Homo sapiens: one gene and its partners. The protein of the gene in region 1 purifies or fractionates together with the protein of each later gene. This does not show direct contact. Each region holds a gene or a part of one and is shown on either strand. Other genes may lie near its edges.

Evidence for each region.
Region 2: the proteins of GNS (region 1) and CAD fractionate together in Homo sapiens (co-fractionation; one large-scale study listed by BioGRID). This does not show direct contact.
Region 3: the proteins of GNS (region 1) and GAPVD1 fractionate together in Homo sapiens (co-fractionation; one large-scale study listed by BioGRID). This does not show direct contact.
Region 4: the proteins of GNS (region 1) and CAPN2 purify together in Homo sapiens (affinity purification with mass spectrometry; one large-scale study listed by BioGRID and IntAct). This does not show direct contact.
Region 5: the proteins of GNS (region 1) and GLS fractionate together in Homo sapiens (co-fractionation; one large-scale study listed by BioGRID). This does not show direct contact.
Region 6: the proteins of GNS (region 1) and PPP6R3 fractionate together in Homo sapiens (co-fractionation; one large-scale study listed by BioGRID). This does not show direct contact.
Region 7: the proteins of GNS (region 1) and UBFD1 fractionate together in Homo sapiens (co-fractionation; one large-scale study listed by BioGRID). This does not show direct contact.

The regions. Positions count from the first base shown.
Region 1 is NC_000012.12:64,752,907-64,756,406, reverse strand, and holds part of GNS (N-acetylglucosamine-6-sulfatase precursor), read left to right. Parts: intron 1-3,500. UniProt on the Homo sapiens protein: Hydrolyzes 6-sulfate groups in N-acetyl-d-glucosaminide units of heparin sulfate and keratan sulfate.
Region 2 is NC_000002.12:27,227,369-27,230,868, forward strand, and holds part of CAD (multifunctional protein CAD), read left to right. Parts: intron 1-3,500. UniProt on the Homo sapiens protein: Multifunctional protein that encodes the first 3 enzymatic activities of the de novo pyrimidine pathway: carbamoylphosphate synthetase (CPSase; EC 6.3.5.5), aspartate transcarbamylase (ATCase; EC 2.1.3.2) and dihydroorotase (DHOase; EC 3.5.2.3).
Region 3 is NC_000009.12:125,264,826-125,268,325, forward strand, and holds part of GAPVD1 (GTPase-activating protein and VPS9 domain-containing protein 1), read left to right. Parts: intron 1-3,500. UniProt on the Homo sapiens protein: Acts both as a GTPase-activating protein (GAP) and a guanine nucleotide exchange factor (GEF), and participates in various processes such as endocytosis, insulin receptor internalization or LC2A4/GLUT4 trafficking.
Region 4 is NC_000001.11:223,747,039-223,750,538, forward strand, and holds part of CAPN2 (calpain-2 catalytic subunit), read left to right. Parts: coding exon 1-127; intron 128-2,000; coding exon 2,001-2,084; intron 2,085-3,500. UniProt on the Homo sapiens protein: Calcium-regulated non-lysosomal thiol-protease which catalyzes limited proteolysis of substrates involved in cytoskeletal remodeling and signal transduction. Proteolytically cleaves MYOC at 'Arg-226'.
Region 5 is NC_000002.12:190,879,321-190,883,620, forward strand, and holds the start of GLS (glutaminase kidney isoform, mitochondrial isoform 1 precursor), read left to right. Parts: upstream 1-1,500; 5' UTR 1,501-1,764; coding exon 1,765-2,150; exon of another isoform or gene 2,151-2,248; intron 2,249-2,592; exon of another isoform or gene 2,593-2,668; intron 2,669-4,300. UniProt on the Homo sapiens protein: Catalyzes the first reaction in the primary pathway for the renal catabolism of glutamine. Plays a role in maintaining acid-base homeostasis. Regulates the levels of the neurotransmitter glutamate, the main excitatory neurotransmitter in the brain.
Region 6 is NC_000011.10:68,572,252-68,575,751, forward strand, and holds part of PPP6R3 (serine/threonine-protein phosphatase 6 regulatory subunit 3), read left to right. Parts: intron 1-1,857; coding exon 1,858-1,973; intron 1,974-3,500.
Region 7 is NC_000016.10:23,556,286-23,560,526, forward strand, and holds the start of UBFD1 (ubiquitin domain-containing protein UBFD1), read left to right. Parts: upstream 1-1,441; 5' UTR 1,442-1,457; coding exon 1,458-1,482; intron 1,483-1,664; coding exon 1,665-1,994; intron 1,995-3,182; coding exon 3,183-3,391; intron 3,392-3,493; exon of another isoform or gene 3,494-3,583; intron 3,584-4,241. Other genes in the region: EARS2 (nondiscriminating glutamyl-tRNA synthetase EARS2, mitochondrial), read right to left, coding at 920-1,058. UniProt on the Homo sapiens protein: May play a role as NF-kappa-B regulator.

The DNA of each region.
Region 1 (3,500 bases):
TGCAGGTGACATTCGGGGATGCCAGTGACATCATGGAACTCCTTAATTTACATGTAAAACTTTGTGTATAATATCTTCATTTTTGTGGAAAGAGCTCTAACCTAAAAAAGATTACAGATTGCTGCCATAGTTGGCAAAATAAATAGTGGTTAACCCCCACCAATCTCACTCAGGTCAAAGGATTGTATATAGCATTTACAACATGATTTAGATTTATAGTGGAATTTTTCAGGCATCTTTGAAATGCTCTTTTATATAGTAGCATCGTCTTTAACATTTCATTGTATTTGTTCCAGGTATCTGTGGGACTCTGTTTTTATTTTTTATTTTGCCAGGACACTGTTCTTATCACTTTCTTGATTTTATTTAAACATCATTATAGTGTGGTGGACACACTGTTCTTCACAGAAGCATAAGCTGCTCTTTTAAAAATAATTCATGGCCGGGCGCGGTGGCTCACGCCTGTAATCCTAGCACTTTGGGAGGCCGAGGTGGACAGATCACGAGGTCAGGAGTTCAGGACCAGCCTGGCCAGCATGGCGAAACCCTAAAATACAAAAATTGGCCGGGCATGGTGGTGCGTGCCTGTAGTCCCAGCTACTCGGGAGGCTGAGGTGGGAGAATCACTTGAACCCAGGAGGTGGAGGTTGCAGTGAGCTGAGATTGTGCCACCGCACTCTAGCCTGGGTGACAGAGCAAGACTCCATCTCAAAAAAAAAAAAAAAAAATCATTTACTCTAAGAAAAGTGACATTTGGCCAAAACCACAGGCAAGTGAAAGAAGAAACTATGATGAAAGGTAGGGGAAGAATAATTTTTTTTTTTTTTTTGAGTTGGAGTCTTGCTCTGTCACCCAGGCTGGAGTGCAGTGGCGCGATCTCGGCCCACTGCAACCTCCTTCTCCTGAGTTCAAGAGATTCCCCTGTCTCAGCCTCCCAAGTAGCTGGGTTTACAGGCACCCACCACCACGCCCGGCTAATTTTTGTATTTCTAGTAGAGACGGGATTTCACCATGTTGGCCAGGCTGATCTTGAACTCTTGACCTCAAGTGATCCGCCCACTTCAGCCTCCCAAAGGGGTGGGATTACAGGTGTGAGAATAAATATGTCATTGCTTCACTGAAAGCAAAACAATTTCCATTGTTAGCCACAGAATTATCAGAATTGTCGTTTCAGAGCAACTGTGCATGGAACCAGGAAAGTAAATGATTCTTTAGGGTTTTAATGAAAAGGGTTCTGCTTGGGGTGAGTAGAGTAACATGTTTGCCCACATGAAGGCATGAAGTTGGCTGCTGCTTAAAGACTGTTGCATGGCCTTAACTTGACCAGCCACTGTCTTTGCTTCGATCTTAAGGATTCATTTTACATTCTAATTAGCATAGAGACACATGACACATTTTGAGTAGTGTGGTTTCTTGTTTGGGACTTTTTCAATTAAGCACGGATTATGGTTGTCTTTTGTACTATAGTTAGCAGTATAAAGATGGCAGTTAATAAAAACTTCTTTTTTTTTTTTTTGGAGACAAGTTCTCACTCTTCTTGCCTAGGCTAGATTGCAGTGGTGCAGTCATAGCTCACTGCAGCCTCGAACTTCTGGGCACAAACAATCCTCCCACCTCAGCCTCTTAAGTAGCTGGGACTACGGGCATGCACTACCATGCCCAGCTAATTTTTATATTTTTTGTAGAGCCAGGGTCTTGCTGTGTTGCCCAGACTGGTCTCAAACTCCTGGCCTCAAGCAGTCCTCCTGCCTCTGCCTTCTAAAGTGCTGGGATAACAGGTGTGAGCCACTGCACCGGGCCTAAAGTCTAAATTCCTATGTGGCCCTGCATCACTGACTCCTGCCTGCCTCTCTGACCTCATCTTACCTCACTCTCCCTTTTCCTCCCTAAGCTGCTTCCATCACCACACTGGCTTCTCTGTTTCCTCCCAGGTGCCTCTCTCCTTCCTCTGGCAGCCCTTGTACTTGCTATATACCCAGCCTGAAACATCTTCTGAATTTTTGCATGACTGACTCCTCATCGCATGGCTCTCCGTACTGAAGTTACCTCCTGAGAGGCCTTTTCTGACCACCCATCTAAAGTAGTTCCCCTTTCTTCCCACCAGCTGTAATCACATCATCCTGGTTTATTCTCTTCATAGCACTTACCACCACCTGAAATGACTGATTGTTTACCTGTTAGTTGTTTTAAGTCCCCAAGAGTGCAGAGATCATGAGGGCGAGGACCATCTATCCTCTGTCCACCACTGCCTAGATTAATGCCTGGCACGTGTTGTGTTTAATAAATGTTATTACACAGTCTTACTGTAAATCAGATATTCTTTCATAATTTTACATATTTATCAGACAGTTTGACAATTAAGTCCCATACAGTCAACTCTGGTCCTTTTCTCCACTTACTCTTTGAATCCTCATTTCACCTTCAAATGTCCTCACAGTAACTCAGGTGTTTTATCAAACCAATGTCTCATGAAGCCCAGTATTCTTTTCCTGAGGATGGTACCCAGTGATGCTTTGAGGAGAGTATGGCTGACGACCTTGCTTCGGAAGGCTGGCGAAGATCTTCTGCTTCTCTAGCGTCTCTTGGCAGCCTCTTCTGGATCTACTCATGAAATTATCAGAGCTTTTTTTGGATAAGTTAGAATCCTCATCCTTTTGAGTTTATGGATTCCGTAGGTTTTGTATTTATATAAAACAATGGGGAAAAGTCATTTATACATTATTGAAAATGAGGCTCCTGTTAACCTACTTATGTATTTAGATTAGCAATCTTTAAGGAATTATTGCACAACAAAATATACTTAAAACTGCATTCAATATGGTCTTAGGTTTCAAAGGTATCTCAGAATCATCGTGAACTGACCCATATTACAACTAAAATGACCTCTTCAATGGTGCTTTTTGCTGTCTGGAATCTGAAGAATATTAGTGTTCCTTTTATTCGTATTTAAATGACTGTCTTCATACTTTTGTCCTCATTCTAGAAGGAAGTTAATTGTTCTCTGTACTTGTAAGGATCTTAGATTTTGAACAAAAGATGAAAAGCAGGACATAAAATAGTTTCTGAGTAGCCTTTTGCCTGACAGTGTTCTGTGTACACCTGCTTGCCACCTGGTTCAAGTCCTTATCCTGAGGTGCTTGTGGGTCTATGCAGACAACAGTAGTTGGTAGTTGAACAGTGTGTGTCTGGCCTCCACCACTGAGTGTGTGAGGTTTGAATCAGTCTCGGAGTCCTGGGGCCTTGTCTGGCTTTCAGAATCCAACTGTTGTCTTACTTCTGTTCTATAGGGCGGAAGGCTCCCTTTATATCATTTCCCACATCCTACTTCTAAAGATTAATTCATGGAGATAGGTCTGCCCTATCTGCCTTATCTGGGCGCTGATGACTAATAAGGGCACAAAGATGTTATTGCCATCAACTGAACTTTCCCTTCCTGCAAGCATTTTGACTTCCTGCACTTTTATACAGGATGGAGCTGGCCGGAACCAAACTTGTCTCTA
Region 2 (3,500 bases), on another chromosome or scaffold:
AGTATGTTTCTTTGTGGTATCCCTTTAGTTGCCGAAGACCGTCCTCTAACACATTTCAACCAAAACAAAAATATACGTGTACCAGACACAGCGCCACCAGCCTGATGGATAAGAGCATTTTGTGGTGCTCCAGATTTCCATTTAGAGCAGTAGTGGCCTTTAAACAAGTAAGTCTAAGCTCAGATATTATTTCAGAATTTTTAGAAATTCTGCAAGACTGCCAATTTTTTCCTTCTGGAGATGAATCTCTGTTATATGAAAATTAGAATAAACATGGGAATGAAGCCATAATTAAATTGTGGCAAAAAGAAGTGGATTGAAAATAGGCCAATGAAAGATTGGTTCCTAGATGAGACATTTAATTGTTTTACATCTGTTCAAGTATTCTTGGAATGTGGTCTTCTTTGGTAACTTTTTGTAACTTTTATTATACAAGTAAGAAACATGAATCATGGAAAACGAGGAAAGATAGTTTAACCAAAGAACAGTAGTCACCTGTAATCTTGCCTTACAGAGATTGATTAATTCGACCGTGTATCTGCGACTGCATAATTCAGCCGTGTATCTACGACTGCATACATTTCTAGGCATATGTGTATGCATGTATTAGGCTTCTCCTTTTTTAACAAATCTCAAAATAAAAAGTCTTACAACCACAGTTACAAAGAAATTGAACAAAATCAGTCACACTACTGTTAACATCGTAGTGTTTTTAAAACTTTTTTAAAGAAATGTAAATGTTAGGATTGTAAATAGAAAAATACACTTGGTAAGAAATACTTAAGCCCCTAGAGTAAATAGTCAGAGGAGATGAACAACACTTTACAGAAGAAGAAATCAATAAGCAAACCTAGAGAAAAGACGGTTCCTCTCATTAGTAAATAGAAATCTAGTTAAATGAGACTCTGTTTATGCCCACTTCTTAGAAGGTTGCTTAAACTTTGTATTATGAAGCACAGACTTCTATAAAGTTATTCGTACTCATCAAGGGCTATAAAATTTGTGTTACCTATTGCCTCTACATATCTGGAAATTTATCCTAAGGAGATTATCCAAAACAGAAAACATCATATCCAGTCCAGGCACGGTGGTTGTAATTAATCCCAGCACTTTGGAAAGCTCAGGTGGGAGGATCGCTTGAGCCCACGAGTTCAAGGTTGCAGTGAGCTGTGATTGTACCACTGCATTCCAGTCTGGGTGCCAGGCTAAGACCCTGTCTTTTTTGTTTGTTTGTTTGTTTGAGACGGATTTTCATTCTTGTTGCCCAGGCTGGAGTGCAATGGTGTGATCTCGGCTCACCACAATCTCTGCCTCCTGGGTTCAAGTGATTCTCCTGTCTCAGCCTCCAGAGTAACTGGGATTACAGGCATGTGCCATCACGCCTGGCTAATTTTGTATTTTAATAGAGACAGGGTTTCTCCCTGTTGGTCAGGCTGGTCTTGAACGCCCGTGCTCAGGTGATCCACCCACCTTTGGCCTCCCAAAGTGCTGGGATTACAGGCCACTGTGCCTGGCCGAGACCCTGTCTCTTTTTTCTTTTCTTTTTTTTTTTTCTTTTTTTTTTTTTTTGAGGCAGAGTCTTCCTCTGTCGCCAGGCTGGAGTGCAGTGGTGCTATCTCGGCTCACTGCAACCTCTGCCTCCCAGGTTCAAGCGATTCACCTGCCTCAGCCTCCTGAGTAGCTGGGACTACAGGCGCGCACAACCACGCCCAGCTAATTTTTGTATTTTTAGTAGAGACGGGGGTTTCATCATACTGCTTAGGATGGTCTCGATCTCTTAACCTCGTGATCCGCCTGCCTCGGCCTCCCAAAGTGCTGGGATTACAGGCATGAGTCACCATGCCCGGCCGACCCTGTCTCGTTAAAAAAGAAAGAAAACATCACAGCCTAACTTATAATTATGAAAACTTTTTTTTTTAATACGGAGTTTTATTCTGTCACCCAGGGTGGAGTGCAATGGTGTGACTTAGCTCACTGCAGCTTGGATCTTCTAGGCTTAAGTAATCTCCCACCCCATCCTTCTGAGGAGTGAGACTACAGGTGTACACCACCACACCTTGCTAATTTTTTTTTTTAATTATTATTTGTAGAGAGGGAGGTCTCACTATGTTGTGCCGGCTGGTCTCAATCTGCCTTAGGTGATCCTTCTGCCTCAGCCTTCCAAAGTGTTGGATTACAGGTGAGAGCCACCAGGACTGCCTAATTGTAAACACTTAAAAGCGAAATGGGCCGGGCGCGGTGGCTCATGCCTGTAATCCCAGCACATTGGGAGGGTGAGGTGGGCATATCATGAGGTCAGGAGTTTGAGACTAGCCTGGCCAATATGGTGAAACCCCATCTCTAGAAAATATACAAAAATTAGCTAGGCATGGTGGCACGCACCTGTAGTCCCAGCTACTCAGGAGGCTGAGGCAGGAGAATCGCTTGACCTCAGGAAGCAGAGGTTGCAGTGAGCTGAGATTGCACCACTGACTCCAGCCTGGGCAACACAGTGAGACTACGTCTCAGAAAAAAAAAAAAAAAAAAAGCTAAATGTCCTTCAGTTAGTAGTTAAATTATGGCAGATCATACAAGAATTAAGTTAGTTGGTTGGGCGCAGTGGCACACGCCTGTAATCCCAGCACTTTGGGAGGCCGAGGCAGGTGGATCACCTGAGGTTGGGAGTTCGAGACCAGCCTGGCCAACATGGTGAAACCCCGTCTCTACTAAAAATACAAAAATTACCCAGGCATGGTGGCAGGTGCCTGTAATCCCAGCTACTTGGGAGGCTGAGGCAGGAGAATCACTTGAACCCAGGAGGCACAGGTTACACTGAGCTGAGATCATGCCATTGCAGTCCAGCGTGGGTGATGAGAGAAACTCCGTCTCAAGAAAGAATTAAGTTGGTGTTGATGAGGCCATGTGGCAATGTGGGAAAATGTATGATGAGGAAAAAACACAGGATGGAAATTATATGTATGCTGTGATGATATGTAAAACATACCTATGAAGGGCCCGGCACGGTGGCTCACGCCTGTAACCCCAGCACTTTGGGAGGCCGAGGCGGGTGGATCACGGGGTCAGGAGTTTGAGACCAGCTTGGCCAACATGGTGAAATCCCGTCTCTAATTAGCCAGACATGGTGACACGCACCTGTAATCACAGCTACTCAGGAGGCTGAGGCAGGAGAATCTCTTGAACCCAGGAAGCAGAGGTTGCAGTGAGTCGAGACCGTGCCATTGCATTCCAGCCTGGGCAACAAGAGCGAAAGTCCATCTAAAAAAAAAAAACCTATGAACCTATGAAGAAAAGTCCAGAAAGAGAAACTCTAAAATGATTGTTGTAAATGTGATTTGCTCTGCATGGATGAGTAGTAAGGATCATCTTCCTATTATCTACACTTTTTTAAAAAGTTTTAAAGAATTCCAGTTGGTGTTATGATTATGTGAATAAATCAAACCCAATAACTGGACAGCCATCAGTGGTTTGGGCCACTGTGATAAACTTCCAGTATCCAGTGT
Region 3 (3,500 bases), on another chromosome or scaffold:
CTCCTGCCTCAGCCTCCCAGGTAGCTGGGACTACAGGTGCTGCCACCATGCCTGGCTAATTTTTGTATTTTTAGTAGAAACGGGGTTTCACCATGTTGGTCAGGCTGGCCTCGAACCTCCTGACCTTAAGTGATCTGCCCGCCTTGGCCCCCCAGAGTGCTAGGATTATTGGCGTGAGCCACCGCGCCTGGCCATCTTACATTTTTTAAAAGACAAAAAATTATTTCCCAGCACTATGTTGTGCTTTTGTGAGCATTTGGTTTCATATGGGGACTAATCATTCTTAGTACATGCTGCCATATAGGTTTGATTATTCATCATTTTGTATGAGGTAATAAAAGGGAAAGTCTGTAAGTGAAGTTCTTGTTTTGCTGAGGTTCTTTTACCTTTTACTGTGTGATCCTAGGTTGTTTTATTTCTCTTCATTCTTCTTCCTTCTTTCTTCTTCCTTCTTTTTTTTTGAAACAAGGTCTTGCTGCATTGCCCAGGCTGGACTTGAACTCCTGGACTTGAGTGATCCTCCTGCCTCAGCCTTACCAAGTAGCTAGGACTATAGGTCGGCACCACCACACCTGGCATTGTTTCTTTTTCTGTTCTTCTTTCTGAGAGGGAGTCTTACTTGTCTCCCAGGCTGGAGTGCAGTGGTGTAATCTTGGCTCACTGAAACCTCTGCCTCCCGGGTTCCAGCGATTCTCCTGCCTCAGTCTCCCTCCTGGGCTGGGACTACAGGCGGGTGCCACGATGGCTGGCTAATTTTTGTATTTTTTTGTAGAGACGGGGTTTCACCATATTGGCCAGGCTGGTCTTGAACTCCTGACCTCGTGATCTGCCCACCTCGGCCTCCCATAGTGCTGGGATTACAAGTGTGAGCCACCGCGCCCGGCCAAAAAAAAAATTTCATGTCTGACGATATCAAATGTTGGTGAAGATGTGGCAAAAATGGTAATTTTGAAACTACTGGCCAGGCGTGGTAGCTCATGCCTATAATTTTAGCACTTTTGGAGTTTGAGGGCCACTTGAGTCCTTGAACCCGGGAGTTCAAGACCAGCCTGGGCCTCAAAGTGAGACCCCTGTCTCTATTAAAAAAGAAAAAATTTATAAAAAAAAAAAAAAAAAGAAACTGCTACCGGTTACTGTTAGGAGGAGGAAAAAAAAACTGTTGGTTGAGTGTAAACTGGTATAGCTGCTTTTGAAGACAGTATTTGCAGCCCTTAGTAAAGTTGAAGATAGGCGTACTCTATAATTTCACGTCTATAAGGGATTATGAATGGGAGGTAGTGGCAAAGGGGATGATATCTATAATTTTTTTTTTTTTTTTGAGGTGGAGTTTTGCTCTTGTTGCCCAGGCTGGAGTGCAAATGCGCGATCTCGGCTCACTGCAATCTCCGTCTCCCGGGTTCCAGCATTTCTCCTGCCTCAGCTTCCCGAGCAGCTGGGATTATAGGCATGCACCACTATGCCCGGCTAATTTTTATTTTATTTTATTTTATTTTATTTTTTTTTTTTTAGACGGAGTCTCGCTCTGTCGCCCAGGCTGGAGTGCAGTGGCGTGATCTTGGCTCACTGCAAGCTCTGCCTCCCGAGTTCACGCCATTCTCCTGCCTCAGCCTCCCAAGTAGCTGGGACTACAGGCGCCCGCCACCATGCCCAGCTAATTTTTTGTATTTTCAGTAGAGACGGGGTTTCACCATGTTATCCAGGATGGTCTTGATCTCCTGACCTTGTGATCCACCTGCCTCGGCCTCCCAAAGTGCTGGGATTACAGGCGTGAGCCACCGCGCGCAGCCCGTTATCTATAATTTCTTTTGAGGATATCTATACTTTTTTTTTGAGACTAGACACTACTGTGACAACAGCTAATTCTGGGAGGCAGAATATACGTGCTAAATTATTATTTGTATCTTTCCCTATTTTCTGCTGTTCGTTTTGTTTTTTTCTTTTTGTTTGTTTTTTGAGACAGAGTCTTGCTCTGTGGTCCAGGCTGGAGTGCAGTGGCGCCATCTCAAGTCACTGCAACTTCCCCCTCCTGGGTTCAAGAGATTCTCCTGCCTCAGCCTCCTGAGTAACTGGTACTATGGGCACGTGCCACCACACCTGGCTAATTTTTTGTATTTTTAGTGGAGATGGGGTTTCACCATGTTGGCAAGCCTGGTCTTGAACTCCTGTGATCCGCCTGCCTCGGCCTCCCCAAAGGGCTGGGATTACAGGCATGAGCCACTGTACCCGGCAGGCTTTGTTTTTTTGTAATCCATAACTTCTAAATATTGTTTTTGCAACTCTTTGAAAAATTGTAAGCCTACAGAAGGGTTGTTCAGTAAACATTCATATACCCTTCACCTAGATTTGCTGTTAACATTTTGCCATGTTTACTTTACACATAGAAGATGCACATTTTACTTTGGGAATCCGAGACGGTCAGATTACTTGAGCCTAGGAATTTGAATTTTGAGGCAAGGTCTTGCTCTGTTGTCTAGGTTGGAGTTCAGTTGCGCTATCAGGGATCATTGCAGTCTCGACCTCCTGGGCTCAAGCTGTCCTCCCACTTCAGTCTCCTGAGTAGGTTGGGATGTGCTACCACACCCGGTTAATTAATTTTAGTTTTTTATTTTTTGAGATGGAGTTTCACTCTTGTTGCCCAGGCTGGAGTACAATGGCACAATCTCAGCTCATCGCAGTTTCTGCCTTCTGATTCTCCTGCCTCAGCCTCGCGAGTAGCTGGGATTACAGGCATGTGCCACCATGCCCAGCTAATTTTGTATTTTTAGTAGAGACGGGGTTTCACCATGTTGATCAGGCTGGTCTTGAACTCCTGACCTCAGGTGAACTGCCCGCTTCGGCCTCCCAAAGTGCTGGGATTACAGGGGTGAGCTACCATGCCTGACCAATTAAAAAAAGAATTTTTTTTTTATTGGGAAGACAGGATCTCCCTATGTTCCTCAGGCTGGTCTCAAACTCCTGGGCTCAAGCAATCCTCCCACCTTGACCTCCCAAAGCTTTGGGATTACAGGCGTGAGCCACTATGCCTAGCTGCTAGAATTTAAAATAAACTTTATTCGGCCAGGCACAGTGGCTCACACCTGTGATCCCTGCATTTTGGGAGACCGAGGCGGGTGGATCACCTGAGGTCAGGAGTTTGAGACCAGCCTGGCCGACATGATGAAATCCCATCTCTACTAAAAATACAAAAAATTAGCTGGGCGTGGTGGCTCGCGCCTGTAATCCCAGCTACTCAGGAGGCTGAGGCAGGAGAATCGCTTGAACCCAGGAGGCTGGGGTTGTAGTGAGCCGAGATCACGCCACTGCACTCCAGCTTGAGCAACAAGAACAAAACTCTGTCTCAAAAAAAAACAACAACAAACAAACAAACAACCCCCCCCCCCAAAAAAAAACCAAGAACTTTATTCTACTGGTGCTTTCTTAGCCACCGTCACAATGTTGTCACTTCTCACTTTACGCAGCTGGCTCCACTGAGGGTTTGTGAGCTGGTCTCCAGTGATGGC
Region 4 (3,500 bases), on another chromosome or scaffold:
TGAGGGCTTCGAAGACTTCACCGGAGGCATTGCTGAGTGGTATGAGTTGAAGAAGCCCCCTCCCAACCTGTTCAAGATCATCCAGAAAGCTCTGCAAAAAGGCTCTCTCCTTGGCTGCTCCATCGACGTAAGTCCAGGCTGCCTTCCCTAGCCTCACCCCATCTGCTCTTGCTGAAGGGAGGCTCCCACAGTGCCCAAGGGAACCCACTGCTCCTGTGTACAACGTAATGCAGCCCTCGTCCACGTAGGGGCCAAAGGAAAACCTCCCTCCACCCTCTGAAGGTCCGCTGAAAATCAACTGGCAAAAGGAAGACTAATACAAGAAATGGCATACAAATGTATGAATGTGGACAGGGGAGAATCACAAGAGATTTCCCTACCACGCATTGGGATACAGAGGGTTATATTCCCTTCCTCTTAGGGGAAGGGAGATGGGGAGGTGCGGATGATTTTAGGGATGTCGTAAATGATTTTTAGGGGAATTCATTGGGCTTAAAGAACATAAATGGTCTGGGATAAAGTCTGTTGGGCCTGCAGAGCAGACAGTGGTTTGTGACAAGTCTGTCTAGCCATGTTGACAGACTTGTCTTTCTTCCTGCAATATGAGTTCAGTTCATAATAACTCATGGAAAGGACCAGACGTCATTGTTTTCATCTTTGGCAGGTCCAGACTTTAGGCAGGTGAGGGAACTTCAGAGAATAGCTTCCTCCTGTGCTTTGGGGGAGAGTGGATCGAGAGACAGAAGGAAAGGGGAGGTCAGAGAGATCTTGAGGCTTCTTCAGTTTAGCATTTCAAAGTGCCATCTCTTAGAGGTATTGGTTTCTGAGCACCCCAGTGTCTACCATTATTGCTCATCACCTGGAAGCCAAGGGTTGCTAGGCAAAAGTCAAGCTGTCTGGGGTGTAATGGATGGGGTGATGGTGCCTCCAGCCCTTCTGTCTTCAGTCCACTTCCCACTCTTAGCCTGCTCTGAATCACCCCCACCCCTCTGACCACAGGTTCCCTGGGAGCCCCTGCCACCTGCTGCCCCTGCCACCTTCCCCTCCATCTGCAGTGCTGTGCAGCCTTCCCCTGCACTCTTGCAGAGCTAATAGGCCCGTGGGAGACTTCGGAAGGAAGAGGAGGAAAGATTTCCTCATAATAGCCTTGCTGGCAACGCTCACCAGGGGATGGGAGGTGGGCACTGTGCCCAGGAGCCTTGGAGCAAAGGCTGTGCCCAACCTCTGAGCCCTGTCCCATCCAGGTTCTGGTCTCTGCGGGGGACAGAGATAAGAAGCCCTGGCTTTTGGAGCCAAAATCTAGGTCAGACTCCCTAGGCAGGAATTCTCAAAGTTTATCAGCAGAACACGTTGAGGCAGAAGACCCTTTCTGCTCCAGCCCTTCTTCCCAGGCTCAACCTTCATCAGAATAGATAGGGGAAAGGAGAGGCTGTGAGGCGTTCTTAAAACAGAAGCAAATTCTGACTCAGACCGGAATAAACAACCGTCCTAGTATAAACCCTACAGCTGGGCTGGGCCAGACCACGGAGCATGGGCTGGTGGTGGGGCGAGGGTGTGCTCAGTGTCCCTGGGCCACTCAAGGCTGTCTGGGTATCAGCCCTGCGCCATCGAGGACCCCCTCCGGCCCTCTCTCGGCCGTGCGCCCTTTCCCTGCGCCATCGAGGACCCCCTCCAGCCCTCTCTCGGCCGTGCGCCCTTTCCCGCCCTTCCCAGCCTGCAGAAATCCGTGGATGCGCTATTCACACGGGAATGCCTGTGCTCGTTCCGCGAGAGGGTTGCATTCCGCCTTTTCTCTGGTATTCTCGGCGTTCAAGCATTTGAACGGGGTAGGAAAGGTTCTCCAAGTGCAAGAAAGCGCAGCCCTGAGCCTCCCACCCCAGGCCTCGGCCGCTGCGCTAGTGCGTCCGGCGGTCCCGCCCGGCAGTAGGACAGAGGGAGCGAGGGAGTCCGGGAGGAAGGGAGAGCGGGTGCGGCCAGTCTGACGGTTGCTGTGTTTGCAGATCACCAGCGCCGCGGACTCGGAGGCCATCACGTTTCAGAAGCTGGTGAAGGGGCACGCGTACTCGGTCACCGGAGCCGAGGAGGTAACGGCCGGCGCGGATGTGCAGGGGTCCTGCTGTCCTGACACGATGGCCACAGGCACAGTTTGTGGTGATGCCCAGGGGCCCGCGCGGCCCCACGGTGGTCCAGTTTACACTCGGGCCCCGCACTCCTGAAGTTCCGCGCGGGAGGAGAAGGGCGTCCCTTTCGCAGCTCGGGCGCCGGGTGCGCCGCGCTGCCACCTGGTGGCCGCAGTGGCCGGCGCCAGGGGCCCTGGTTTTACTTGTTTTAGATGTTACCCTGTTTTACAGTTACAACCTTACTATTTTGATAAGCTAAAAATAATAAAACAATGCATCTTCATAGTGTTTTATACTCTATAAGGTGCTTTCTCTTTTGATCTCGTAAAAGTATTCGTGCCCATGTTCAAATCTGACTGCCTCTTACCAGCTGTGTGGCCTGGGCCAATTACTGGAACTCTCTGTCCCTTAGTTTCCTCATTTAAAAAATGGAAATAATGATAATATCCATTGGAAGGTCGTGGCGATTCAATCAAGTTAATATATGTAAAGTGCTCAGAGGTGACTCACACATCATATATAAGGAGGTAGCTGTCCTTGCTGTTGTGATCACTGTTGTTATTGAAAATATTATGGGCTGACATGGTGGCTCACACCTGAAATCCCAACACTTTGGGAGACCGAGGTGGGAGGATCACTCGAGCCTAGGAGTTCAAGACCAGCCTGGGCAACGTAGCAAGAACCTGTCTCTACAAAAAAAAGTTAGCTGGGCATGGTGGCATGCCACTGTCGTCCCAGCTACTCGGGAGGCTGAGGTGGGAGGATCACTTGAGCCCAGGAGGTCGAGGCTGTAGTGAGCCATGATCATGCCATTGCACCCCAGCCTCAGCGACAAAGTAAGACCATGTCTCAAAAAAAAAATTATCAAGCAACTCAAGTTCACTGTTAATTACAGAACCCAGTCTAGACCGCAGATCTTCTGCATGTCCAGTGTTCTTTTTTTAACCTTGATTTTTTTAACTACCCCCTCACACACACACGTCTTTTTATTTGAAAATTTTCACGTATACAGAAAAGTTGAAAGACTAACATAATAACTATCCAATTGCCACTCCCCTAGATTCACCGATTGCTAACATTTGCCATGTCTGCTTTATCTATGTGTGCACTTTTTTTGAGCCATATGAAAGTAAGTTGCAGACGTTATGACACTTCCCTCCTCAATACTTCAGCATTTATTCCCTATGAATAAGGACATTCTGTTACATAATTCCTCTACTGTTGCCACACCTAAGAAAATAACATTAATTCAGTAGTGTCATCTATTATAAAGTCTATACTAACATTTTCCCAGTTGCCCAAAATGTCCTTTCTGGCGACCCACCCCAACCCCATCCAGGACTCAATCCAGATTCACTCACTGCATGTGCCTGTTATCAC
Region 5 (4,300 bases), on another chromosome or scaffold:
TCACATAACCTGTAGGTACAGCCAGATTTCCTAATTATTAATCTATTGAAATATTTTACAGTTCACTAGATTACTAAATCCGGTTATCAATTAATGATGCACCTGACATACACCCTTCTAGTTTCATAAAAATCACCTCATTAGGCCGGGCGTGGTGGCTCACGCCTGTAATCCCAGCAATTTGGGAGGCCCAGGGGGTGCAGATCCCTCGAAACCAGCCTGGGCAACCTGGCGAAACCCCGTCTCTACCAAAAATACAAAAAAAAAAAAAAAAAAAAGCAGGTGCTGGCTGAGGTGGGAGGATCACCGGGGCCCCTGAGTTCAAGGCTGCAGTAAGCCGTGATCGCGCCACTGCACTTCAGCCTGGGCGACAGAGTGAGACCCTTTCTCAAAACGAACACACACAACAACACAGTAACAACACACCAACCCCCAAAACATCTTATTAAACTCTGTGGATCTACTCCATTTAAACCTAATTGTTTCAGGAAATAGTCTAAAAACATTTTTTTGTCCTGGAATGTAATGTGTATGTAGCCTCAGGGAATAACTCAGTTTATCAGGTTCTTGGCTGTTTTTCCACAGGTCCAAAAGGATAAATGGATAAAGTGATGCTGAAATAACTTAGAGAACCCGTATTCCAACGCTTCTATTTTAAAACAGTGAAGCAGTTTTTAAAATAGAAAAGTATCTACAGTTTTGCTTTCAAGCAAATAGCGTTAACGGAATCATTGCTATTCAAAACTATTTTTGAAGTATCGGTGTACATTTAAAAAAAATAATTTTTAAAAAAGAAAGCTGTCGTATTCTGGATTCCGCAACCCCCCCACCCCGCCTCGCCACTCGTCGCCCTCCCTCCACCTCCACCCTCCCATGGCTTAAGTCGCATAGCTGAAAGGATTTTGCTCATTTTTTCCAAAACACTTCACGTCTGGGTAGTAGCCAATCATGGAAAGTTTCAAGCAAATGTTACATTTGGGAGAGGGATGAAGCTTGTCCGGGGCTGCTCTCGGAGGAGTCGCCAGACGCCCTGACCTGGGGGCCAGATGCGAGCTGGGATCGGCTGAGTTCCGACAGCTCGGCCAGACTCAGCCCTGCCAAACCTGCTGACCTCACTGCCCTCGGCTGCGGGGGATCTCGCCCATGAGTCTCCCCAACAGCTCGAATTCCCAGAGTGGAGGAGCCCACTGCTTCATAAATGCGAGAACCCAGAGCCCCTAGTACCCAACTAGGCTAGCCTCGGAGTTGGCACGGCGTGCAGAAAGTGGCTACTGAGCAGCCGGGCCTGGCTCACCCGCTTCACACGTCAGTTTGACTCCTCTCCCCGCCCCCCACCAATCCCCCGCCCTACTCTCCGCGCACCCAGAGCCGAGAGAAATTTGACTGCCCTAATCGCCAATCAAAAGAGAGGTCGAGGATTTGAGCCAATCGCAGCGGGCGAAAGGGGCGGGCCGTCGGCGAGCGCTGAAGGTCTCTAGCCCTCCCCTGCGCTTTAGCCTCAGTGCGGAGCCTTAGGCGGAGCGAAGAGAACCGGTCGCGGCAATCCTAGCGCGCAGCAGCAGCAGCAGCAGCAGCAGCAGCAGCAGCAGCAGCAGCAGCACCCGCATCCGCTGCGGGAGTCCGAGCCGGAACCACACCCAAGTAGCTGCCCTTTCCTCTTCTGTCATCTCACCGCCCCACCACAGACCGCGTTCCCCGAGGAAACCGGCCGCCCACGCCCGGAGCATCCTCCCCTGTTGAGCGGGCGCTGACGGACCCGGCGGCATGATGCGGCTGCGAGGCTCGGGGATGCTGCGGGACCTGCTCCTGCGGTCGCCCGCCGGCGTGAGCGCGACTCTGCGGCGGGCACAGCCCTTGGTCACCCTGTGCCGGCGTCCCCGAGGCGGGGGACGGCCGGCCGCGGGCCCGGCTGCCGCCGCGCGACTCCACCCGTGGTGGGGCGGGGGCGGCTGGCCGGCGGAGCCCCTCGCGCGGGGCCTGTCCAGCTCTCCTTCGGAGATCTTGCAGGAGCTGGGCAAGGGGAGCACGCATCCGCAGCCCGGGGTGTCGCCACCCGCTGCCCCGGCGGCGCCCGGCCCCAAGGACGGCCCCGGGGAGACGGACGCGTTTGGCAACAGCGAGGGCAAAGAGCTGGTGGCCTCAGGTGAAAAGTGAGTGTCTCCGCGAGGCGCAGGAGGCCTCGTTCCTTTCGGGGCCCGGGCTCAGGCTGTGTGGGGCCCTGCGGTGGGGCGGGATAGGAGCCGAGGGTCTAGAAAAGAGAAAGAAAGAGGTGCCGGGCGGCCTGCGCCGTCTGCGCCATGTGATTAGGCCCGGCCCCGCCCGCGCCTTCCCCGCCCGCAACCCTCCGCCAGGCACCCACTTCCCTTCTCCGCCCCCGGCGGGGGTCGCCCTGGTGGGGCCGCGGTGGGGCCTGATGGGCTCGCCTGGCGTCCCCAGCGCCAGAGAGGCCGCTCCCCTGCCCGCGCTGCGTGCTCAGCTCCCTGGCTTGCGGCTGCAGCGCCTGGCCGCCCGCCCCAGCCATTCGTGGGCGATGCTGCACGAACATCTCCACCGAGTGACATTTAGGAGTTGGGCGTTCAGCAGAGCCTTTACCTTCCTGACTTGTCGCTTTTCCTGGCTCGTTTCCGCTCTGCCTGCCCTCCCTTGGTTTCTGCCATCATCCGGTTGGAAGCCAGATGTGACAGAGAGCTCTTTATATTTCGGGAGTGGCTACCTCAGGCACGTGTAGAGCCATCTGGGGCACCGGAAACAATGTTTCAGAAGTGAGATTAGGAGGAATCCGGTCATGTGGCCGAGAAGATGGGGCACGCAGTATAGACCACCTGTTTGCATAAGGGACCAGCTTTGGCTTGTCAGGTCTTCCGTGAGATGGGGAGATTTTTAGAAATAAAAGTTAAATAGCCAAGATGAAATGTGACGTAATACACTAACTCAGTGAAAAATCTGAGTTGAGTAGGTTTTGTGACTTCATTGTGATAGGATGTTGACTCATCCTGTATGTGTACGGCACAGTAGTTTAGTCTTAAAGCAAAACTGGTTTTTCTTAAACAATATGCAAAGCAGTCTCCTATATATTTTTGTCTTGTGTAATACAAATGGACCACTTTGTTTTCCCAAAATGGGTAAAAATTTACGGATCTGCTTTCATTATACCTTACTCTTTTTCTGGCTTTGTACGCTGACACTCTAACCTGTTTTGCTTCCCTTTTATTTCTGCTGCTATTTCCAGCTCTAGAGTTCCTTAAGTCAAACTGAAAGTGAGAACATTGTTATAATTTCAATCTCACGCCTGCTTGATGTTTTCCTGTAATTGAAGTTGGGACCTTCCAGAAACTTTTCTAAAGTTCTTCTCCCAGACTGAAAAAGATTATTTGAAAAAAATCACTTGATGATGGGCGAAATTTGTGGTATTTTGTGATGTTGGTTTTGTGCCACAAAATAGCGTCCTGACCATGGACAGGTTATTTAATATCTTGGGTTAGATGACTTAAATCCTTTCAAGTTCTAAAAAGCTATACTTCTGTTAAATTTGTACTTCTCTCATGTTTTAGGGACTAGAATGATAATTTAATCTCATCTGGGACTCACTTTTACTTTAACATCATCCGGTTTACCAAGGAAGTAACGAGTTTACATGCAAGTGCCCAAGGTACAGAATTGCAAAATGCAGTCACAACCGTTTAAAAGTTCATCTTAAAGGCTACAAGATGGGAACTGCATTCTAGTAAAATTATGTCTTCAGGTCTGTGTCTCTGCAGTGGCTCTAGTGCCTCTCTTTTTTTTCCTCTTTTGTCAAACAGGAAATTGAGCTTCTTCTGTGATTCACTTGTCCAGAAGTTTCTGGTTTCATTGCCTTTTTAATAAAAAATCACCTTTTAGCAAGGGCCTCAAGGTTGTGAAGAAAGTTTTTTAATTTGGTTAAAGTTTCTATTTCCTTAATGATCTGGTTTCCAAATGTAGCTTTCCCTCTTTGGCTCCTTTCATTTTGCCTTTATGTGACAAACATTTCTCTTATCCTGGGAGGTAAGCTCCCAGTTGATCCTGTTATCCTTTCTAATGCTTAGCCTGCAAAGCATAGGTCATCCCTCAGTCAGCAGTCCACCTGGTATGCTAGCACTCACTCAGGACTGTGCCAGATTTTATGTAGTATTATTAAAAGAAATAACCATGAGAAAATTAAATTAACATTTTGTAAAAGGCTTAGAACAATATTTGGCGTGTGTTAAATGACACATAACTATTTATTAAATAAATGAGAAAACATTGCTTCTTCATTATTGTAAAGCCTGTTAAAGAGATT
Region 6 (3,500 bases), on another chromosome or scaffold:
CTGCCTCCTCATCTGGCCAGGGCTCAGATATCCTTTGTGCCCTGCTCTCCTGGTGAGTCCCGTTTTCTGGAGGCCTGGTGAATACCATTCCCTCTGTCTAGGGGGATCCCGAAAGAACTTTCCTTGTTTCCTTGCACAACAGCCTGAAGCAGTTTGAAGCTGTGGGTCACCTTAGAGATGGGCCTTTGTTTTCTTTCACTTGTGTACTTGAGGGTGTGCAGAAGAGTGACTCAGTTGCCTGTAGGTAACACCTGGCTCTCTGGATCTTACTGAAGAACTAAAAGAGACTCTGAGCAACTCAGTGAAGATTGACTCTGGCCAGGCACGGTGGGAGATGCCTGTAATCCCACTGCTTTGGGAGGCTGAGATGGGAGGATTGGTTGAGGCCAGGGGTTCGAGACCAGTCTGGACAACATAGGGAGATCCTGGCTCTACAAAAAATTAGCCGGATGTGGTGGTACTTGCCTATAGTCCCAGCTACTCAAGAGGCCGAAGTGAGAGAATTGCCTGAGCCCAGGAGTTTGAAGCTGCAATGAGCTGTGATTGCACCACTGCACTCCAGCCTGGATGACAAGCAAGACCTTGTCTCTACCTAAATAATCAACCCTGTACTTCTTACCCTTAGGCACCCCCAAGCCCTCTAAGATTCTCTAGCAGATACTTTATTTTCCAAGCAAGCCTTCAAGCATAGGATGTTTTTTTTTTCTTATTGCTCCTGAAAGGCTTTTCTCTCTCTAAGCAAAAATCTCTGCAGTGTTTGTTCCCTGCTATCTGCAGTCAAAAATCTTTCGTTTGATAGAGCTTAAAATCTTGGCACTTTGTAAATAGGTAGAGAAATCAGATTAATATGAGTTTACTTATTTTATATATATATATATATATATATATATATATATATATATAATTTTTTTTTTTTTGAGACGGAGTCTTATTTTGTCACCCAGGTTGGAGTGCAGTAGCACAATCCTGGCTCACTGCAGTCTCTGCCTACCGGGTTCAAGAAATTTTCCTGCCTCAGCCTCCTGAGTAGCTAGGATTTCAAGTGTGCACCACCACGCCTGGCTAATTTTTGTATTTTTAGTAGAGATGGGGTTTTGCCATGTTGCCCAGGATGGTCTCAAACTCCTGACCTCAAGTGATCCACCTGTGTTGGCCTCCCAAAGTGTTGGGATTACAGGCGTGAGCCACTGTGCCTGGCCTGATACGAATTAAGTGTAAAGATTGATCATGGTTGGGAAGATGAGACCTTAAATGGGAAAAGGACAAAGACTGTTTGTTTGCATGTGTTCAGAATGGTGTATGGTCAAGTACTAGTTGACTGTCTCCTATCTTGGCCAAGTCTCACATCAGCTAATATCTTAACTTGAGACATGTCATTGGTAGATAATTATTTCTATTCATTGATATAATAAAAATTTGCTATCTTTTAAGAAAATGAACCAGCAGAATTCTTACCTCAGTTCCTTATAATCTGATTAAGGTTTGAAAAAGTTTCATTAAAAAGATGTAAAATAAAATCACAATAACATTAGGCATCAGAGAAGGTTTATTTGATCTTTTAAAAAATAATGTGTTATTGACAGTGAGTGATGATTTTTGAGATTCGAATAAACTGTGGCCTGTTGACTGAGGCTGCCATATAATCTTTTACAATTTCACACCCCTCCCTGACCATGCTGCATGGTCATATTCTGGCACCTTCCATTCCTTTGTTTTTCTTTTCTTTTCTGTCCATCGTCATTTTCTTCAGTGCCTTCAGGGTTTAAAATGATTGTTTAAAAGTCCGCAGTATTTACCGAGTGTTTCATCACTTCATCCTATCAGGAATCTGAGTATTTGTCCTTTACCTCTTGTCAGGGCTGAGGGAGGAAGACGGCATGGTTACATGGGACACCTAACGAGGATAGCTAACTGTATCGTGCACAGCACTGACAAGGGCCCCAACAGTGCATTAGTGCAGCAGCTTATCAAAGGTAAGTTATTTGTGAAATTTGAATTACATTTTTGTTGGGTTGCAGGAAGGATTTAAGGGTCAAGTAGAAATGCATGTAGCATTTTTAATAGTGATTTGTGGGACTTCTTTATATTTGGCAAATTATGTATTTGAATGAGGTTCTTGAGAATGTGTTTGAACAGTGTTGTTTTTTGGTTGTATTTATGTTCATGTAGTTACAGACCATTCCATAAGCATTGGCAGGCTTGGCTGGATTCAGCATATAAGAGTCACCTATTGTCATTCTTAAAGAGCATTGCTTGGTGAATCATGCTTTTGAGTATTGTGAGTGTGAAGTACTCATATGCTAGCAGTTGAGCCACTTCAGCTATAATTTTGCCTTTTATTTTCTGAAGGCCTCTATATAGCCTCTGAATTAAGTTTCTTTAACTGGAATATTAGGGCATTTATCAGCATTTCTTTGATGTCGCTGTCACTAAAATGAGGGGTATTGGCTTCTAAAGGACTCTTTCTGTATAGCATTTCAGTTTAATCAGCCCAAGCTTATTTGGAAGAAACTATATGGATGCTTTTTTACACTGGCCCCAAGCCATGAGCCTTCTTCTAAAATGAGAGAACTGTGTACTCTGGGTTTTTGTACCAACAGGATTACCAATCCTGAGACCTATTCTGAATGTGAACAGTCTTTAACATCCATGGTACAGAATTTGTTCAGTTAAAATCATTTCCCAGTGGGTCTTCCATTTTTTCTTAAGAATGTTTGTTTGTTCAAGAGGCTATTCCCTGTTGAATGTGCACTAAAACCACAGTTGTCACCAGGGATGGAAAAAGTGGTGTGTGCCCACTTCTAATTTTGCTTCTTGAGAGAGGCATAAGAGGTATAAGCCTCTTCCTTGGGCCATTTCACCACACAGTTTATCTTTATGTCCTAACTAAGAAGAAATGGCCATGTGATATGACTGAGTTTTTAGATCAGACTTTCCTTTATGGAAGCTGCTTGCCAGGTGGTACATGTGTACACTTCTGTGAGTGTGCACACATGCATGGCTGTTTTAAACCAGAATTATCAGATGACTAGTTAGGCCTCTAAAATTACGTCATGGTTTGATTTTCTCAGAAAAGCAGTTGTTTATCCTTTTCTTTAACATTTCTCTAGAAGGTAGAATTTCACTATTACCTGTGTATCCACGTTGGCCCATGACACAAATATTTAGGAAACATGATCTTAGAGCAATTTGAAAAGCCATACTAGGTTCTGTGGAACATTCATTGGCCAGCTGCCAATGAGAGCATTTCAAGAAAGTGTGCAGGAGCTGTCATTTGCAGCATTTTCTAGACTTAACTTGACCATGGAAAAAGATCCCCCTACCCCCGACACGTTAAACACCTACCACCTTTCTCAGAAAAGCTTGTTGGAAACACACTTTCCAGGTTAAGCTTCTACCAGAGCATTTTCAGAAACTTGTTAAGTTCACAAGCTACCTTAGGGCTCTTGGCCTCATCAAGCCTATACCATTGGGTAGGGGGATTCTGGTTCCTGAAAGTC
Region 7 (4,241 bases), on another chromosome or scaffold:
AGCTTGCTAAGCTCCCAACAGCACTAGCACAGTGCCTTGGTACCTGCGATTTCCTCTACCCAGAAGGTTCCTTCTTTTTTGTTTTTGAGACACAGTTTCGCTCTTGTTGCCCAGGCTGGAGTGCAATGGCGCGATCTTGGCTCACCGCAATCTCCACCTCCTGCGTTCAAGCGATTCTCCTGCCTCAGCCTCCCAAGTAGCTGGGATTACAGGCATGCGCCACCATGCCCAGATAATTTTGTATTTTTAGTAGAGACAGGGCTTCACCATGTTGGTCAGACGGCTCTCAAGTGATCCACTTGACCTCAAGTGATGCACCCACCTCTGCCTCCCAAAGTGCTGGGATTACAAGCGTGAGCCACCGCGCCTGGCCTCCAGAAGGTTCCTTCTATAGGCTTCACATAGCGTGCTCCTTCTTGTCATTTGGATCTCAGCTCAAATGTTACCTGCTCAGTAAAGCCTTCTGGAGCGTCCTTCTTAATCCCCAGTCTCCTATCCTGTTTCACTTCCCGCATGGCACATGTGACTCTAAAATTACACTTATTTTTTATAAGTGTCTGCGGCAGCCACTAGAATGCAGACTTCCACAGAGCAAGGCCCCTACCTTTCTCAATGATCACTGTATCCCAGCGTCTACAACACCTGTTACACAGGTTGTCATCAATGCACATGTATGGAATGCATGAAAAAAAGATCGAAAGAGATGGGATGGCACAAAAAACACAAGAAACTCCTGGCAATTTGAATTATTTCCGCTCCTGCACCTCAGTTTCCGCCTCTGTAAAATGGGCTCGCGCTGCCTTAACCCTCCTCCGCCCGCCCACTCTGACACCACCGGAAAGGATTCATTCGGGAACATTCGTGGGGCGGAGACGGGACAGGGGGCCTCGGCCTGTAGCGTCACGTCCGCCAGGGTTACCTGTGGGGCTGGGAGCGAACCGCACTCGCACCGCAACCCCGGCATCAGTGCCCAGGTTGGCCTCGCGCCGTCCTACGGGGCGGCCAGAGGCCGCCGAAGGCCTCTCGCGCTGCAGCAGTCTCCTCAGGAGCGCCGCCATGTGGGATGGAATAGCACACGTGGGCTTCTCCCTGCGTCACTTCCGGGGACTGCTTCCAGCCAATCGGCCTCCGCCACAGCCAGCGCAGCCTTGCCCCTTAAAGTCACAGGCCCCCTAGCGCGAAATCCCACGCCCCCCTGGACGGCTGCGGCCGCACTCGCCACCAGGGGGCAGAGGCCAGAGAAAGGGCTATTTCCCGGACCCGCCCCCTTCAGCTTGGGAAAGCGAAAGCGTGGCAGGGGCCGGACCTGGGAGCGGAGGAGGCGGGTCTCCATAGAAACCTCCACCTGTTTCCGGCCGGGCTGTGAGAGATTAGGGGCTGCTGCGGGGGCCAATCTCAGCCAGCTCGCCTCTTCCCAGCGGCCTCTGCGGGAGCGGTGGGTGTTGTACACAATCATCATGGCGGCGGCCGGGGCCCCGGATGGTGAGTGCGGCGGGGGTGGCGGGCGCCGGGCCGGGGCTGAGGTTGCGGTCGCTCCTCTGGGGGATGCGGCCCGGCCCGGGAGGGAGAACCGCGGCTCGGGAACGGAGGTCCGGCGGCGCCCGGACAGCGTCCGTTCCCAAGCCCAGCCCGCGGCGAGCGCCCACCCCCTAACCCCCTTGCAGGCATGGAGGAACCTGGCATGGACACGGAGGCCGAGACTGTGGCTACTGAGGCTCCCGCGCGGCCCGTCAACTGCCTGGAGGCTGAAGCCGCGGCGGGGGCGGCGGCCGAGGACTCCGGCGCCGCACGAGGCAGCCTGCAGCCGGCCCCGGCCCAGCCCCCTGGGGACCCCGCAGCCCAGGCCTCGGTCAGCAACGGCGAAGACGCGGGCGGCGGCGCGGGCAGGGAGCTGGTGGACTTGAAGATCATCTGGAATAAGACCAAGCATGACGTGAAGTTCCCCCTGGACAGCACAGGCTCCGAGCTGAAACAGAAGATCCACTCGATTACAGGTAATTCCTGTGGCGCTGACAGCCAGTCTTCCCCACCCCGCCTCCTGATGGCCCTTGCACCCTACTAGGCACCTGGTGGCTTTCCTTGCATCAGGTCCCCCCATCCTTACAGCAGTCTTCTGAAGGATACTTGGATGCCCATTACTCAGCTGGGGAAAGAGACTCAAGTTTATAGAGCTAGTAAGTTGCAGAGCTGGGATTAAAGCCGAAGTCTGACGTTTAGGCCCCAGTTTCTCATTGATGTTGCTCTAACATCTCTAATTAAAAAATCACCTAAGGCGCTTGTTTTACAGCTTCTGGGCCCTTTCCCAGGAGATTCTGATTCAGTGGGTCTGGGATGTAGCCAGGAATTTATTTTTAGCAAATATCTTAGGTAATTCTTCTAAGTGAAGTTTAGGAAACGCTGCTATTGACTTTGATGCTGGTTCTTCACAGTCGATTCTGTTTCTTAATTTTACCTTGTTCATAGCTCTTTGCCATCTGAGATTTCTTTTCTTTTTCCTATTTTTTTTTTTTTTTGAGACGGAGTCTTGCTCTGTTGCCCAGGCTGGAGTGTACTGGCACCATCTTGGCTCACTGCAGCCTCCGCCTCCCAGGTTCAAGCGATTCTCCTGCCTCAGCCTCCCGAGTAGCTGGGATTACAGGTGCCCGCTACCCCGCCGGGCTAGTTTTTTTTATTTTATCCACCCACCTCGGCCTCCCGAAGTGCTGGGATTACAGGCATAAGCCATCACTCCTGGCCTTGAACTTTTTTTTTTTTTTAAAGCTTTCTACATGTAGCCTTGTAATCTCCATTAAGAACAGGAGTTTTGTCCCTATTGGCTTCTGTAGCTCTGATGCCTGTGGATTCTCACTTAATATGTGAATGATTTAGATGACTGAGGAACAACTTGGAAAGAATGAGAGCTAGTACTTACTGAACAATTATTCAATGCTAGCCACCGTACTAAATGCCCCGCATTGGTCTCTTAATCCTTGAAACAGGTCTGTACAGAAGGACTTACTCTAATAAATCTTCTACAGTTCTAGAAACTGAGGTTCAGAGGTTGTAAATCTCCCAAGTTCACAAAGCTAATAGGTGGTGGAGGCAGTATTCACTTTTTGGTCTGTTACCAAAGAGCTGTGTAGTATCCATACATTTTTCTGTCCTTCCTTCCTTTCACTGTCCACCTTCTACCTTTTCCCAAGGTCTCCCGCCTGCCATGCAGAAAGTCATGTATAAGGGACTCGTCCCCGAGGATAAAACATTGAGAGAAATAAAAGTGACCAGTGGGGCCAAGATCATGGTGGTTGGCTCCACCATCAATGATGTTTTAGCAGTAAACACACCCAAAGATGCTGCGCAGCAGGATGCAAAGGCCGAAGAGAACAAGAAGGAGCCTCTCTGCAGGCAGAAAGTGAGTCCATCTTGTGCTTCTTGGTCTTGAGAAATTTGAGGCTTTGTCCTCTTGAGCCGTGGCTGGTTATATTCTCCCTAGAATAAGCTCCTTTTTGGACAGGGCCCATGATGGAAATTTATGGCAGCAGTTGGGTGCCGCAGAGTGGAGGTGACAACTACCTGAGATTTGCAACTTTGTCTCATCTGGCGGGTCAGTGTGTCTCAAGTCTACCTACTTTAGGATAAGACCTTGGTAAAGGGAGGCTTCAGACCATGTGTTGAAAGGAATCAGACGTGGGTTTCTCTCTCTTATTTAGTGCCAGAGAAAACTACCAGTACTAGAAGTAAGCCCTCATTTTGTACAAGTGCTTACATTTGGCTTTTTGGTTTGTGGCTTTCCCCAAGTCAACAAGCCTGGCTAGGCATGGAAATCAACAACTCTCGGAGGTTCCCCTAAAGCTGACCGTTTCAGGAAGCTAAATGAAGCTGAGTAGGAAGACAACTACACTGATGGATTTGTTTATTTATTTTTTTGTCCTGATCTGTGAAATAGGAGCTTGGTTTTTTACGTTCTCTGTTCTTTTGGCTGCAAGAGATCCTGCCTTGTCTTGTGCTCATCATAGCCATTAACATTCTTTCACGTAACGAGGAAAAGTGAGATTATTTTACTATGGAAGGAACAGGTTGTAAGAATCATTACTTGTTATCTTTTTACCTGGCAAATTATACTGATTGCTGTGTAGCCTCCTGATCGTTCTTCCTAGTGTTCCAAGGAAGACAGGTATTCTCAACTGTGTCTGAAGTAGAGTAGATAAACTTCAATCAACATCATTTAGTGACCATAGACACTAAGATATATGACCAACAGT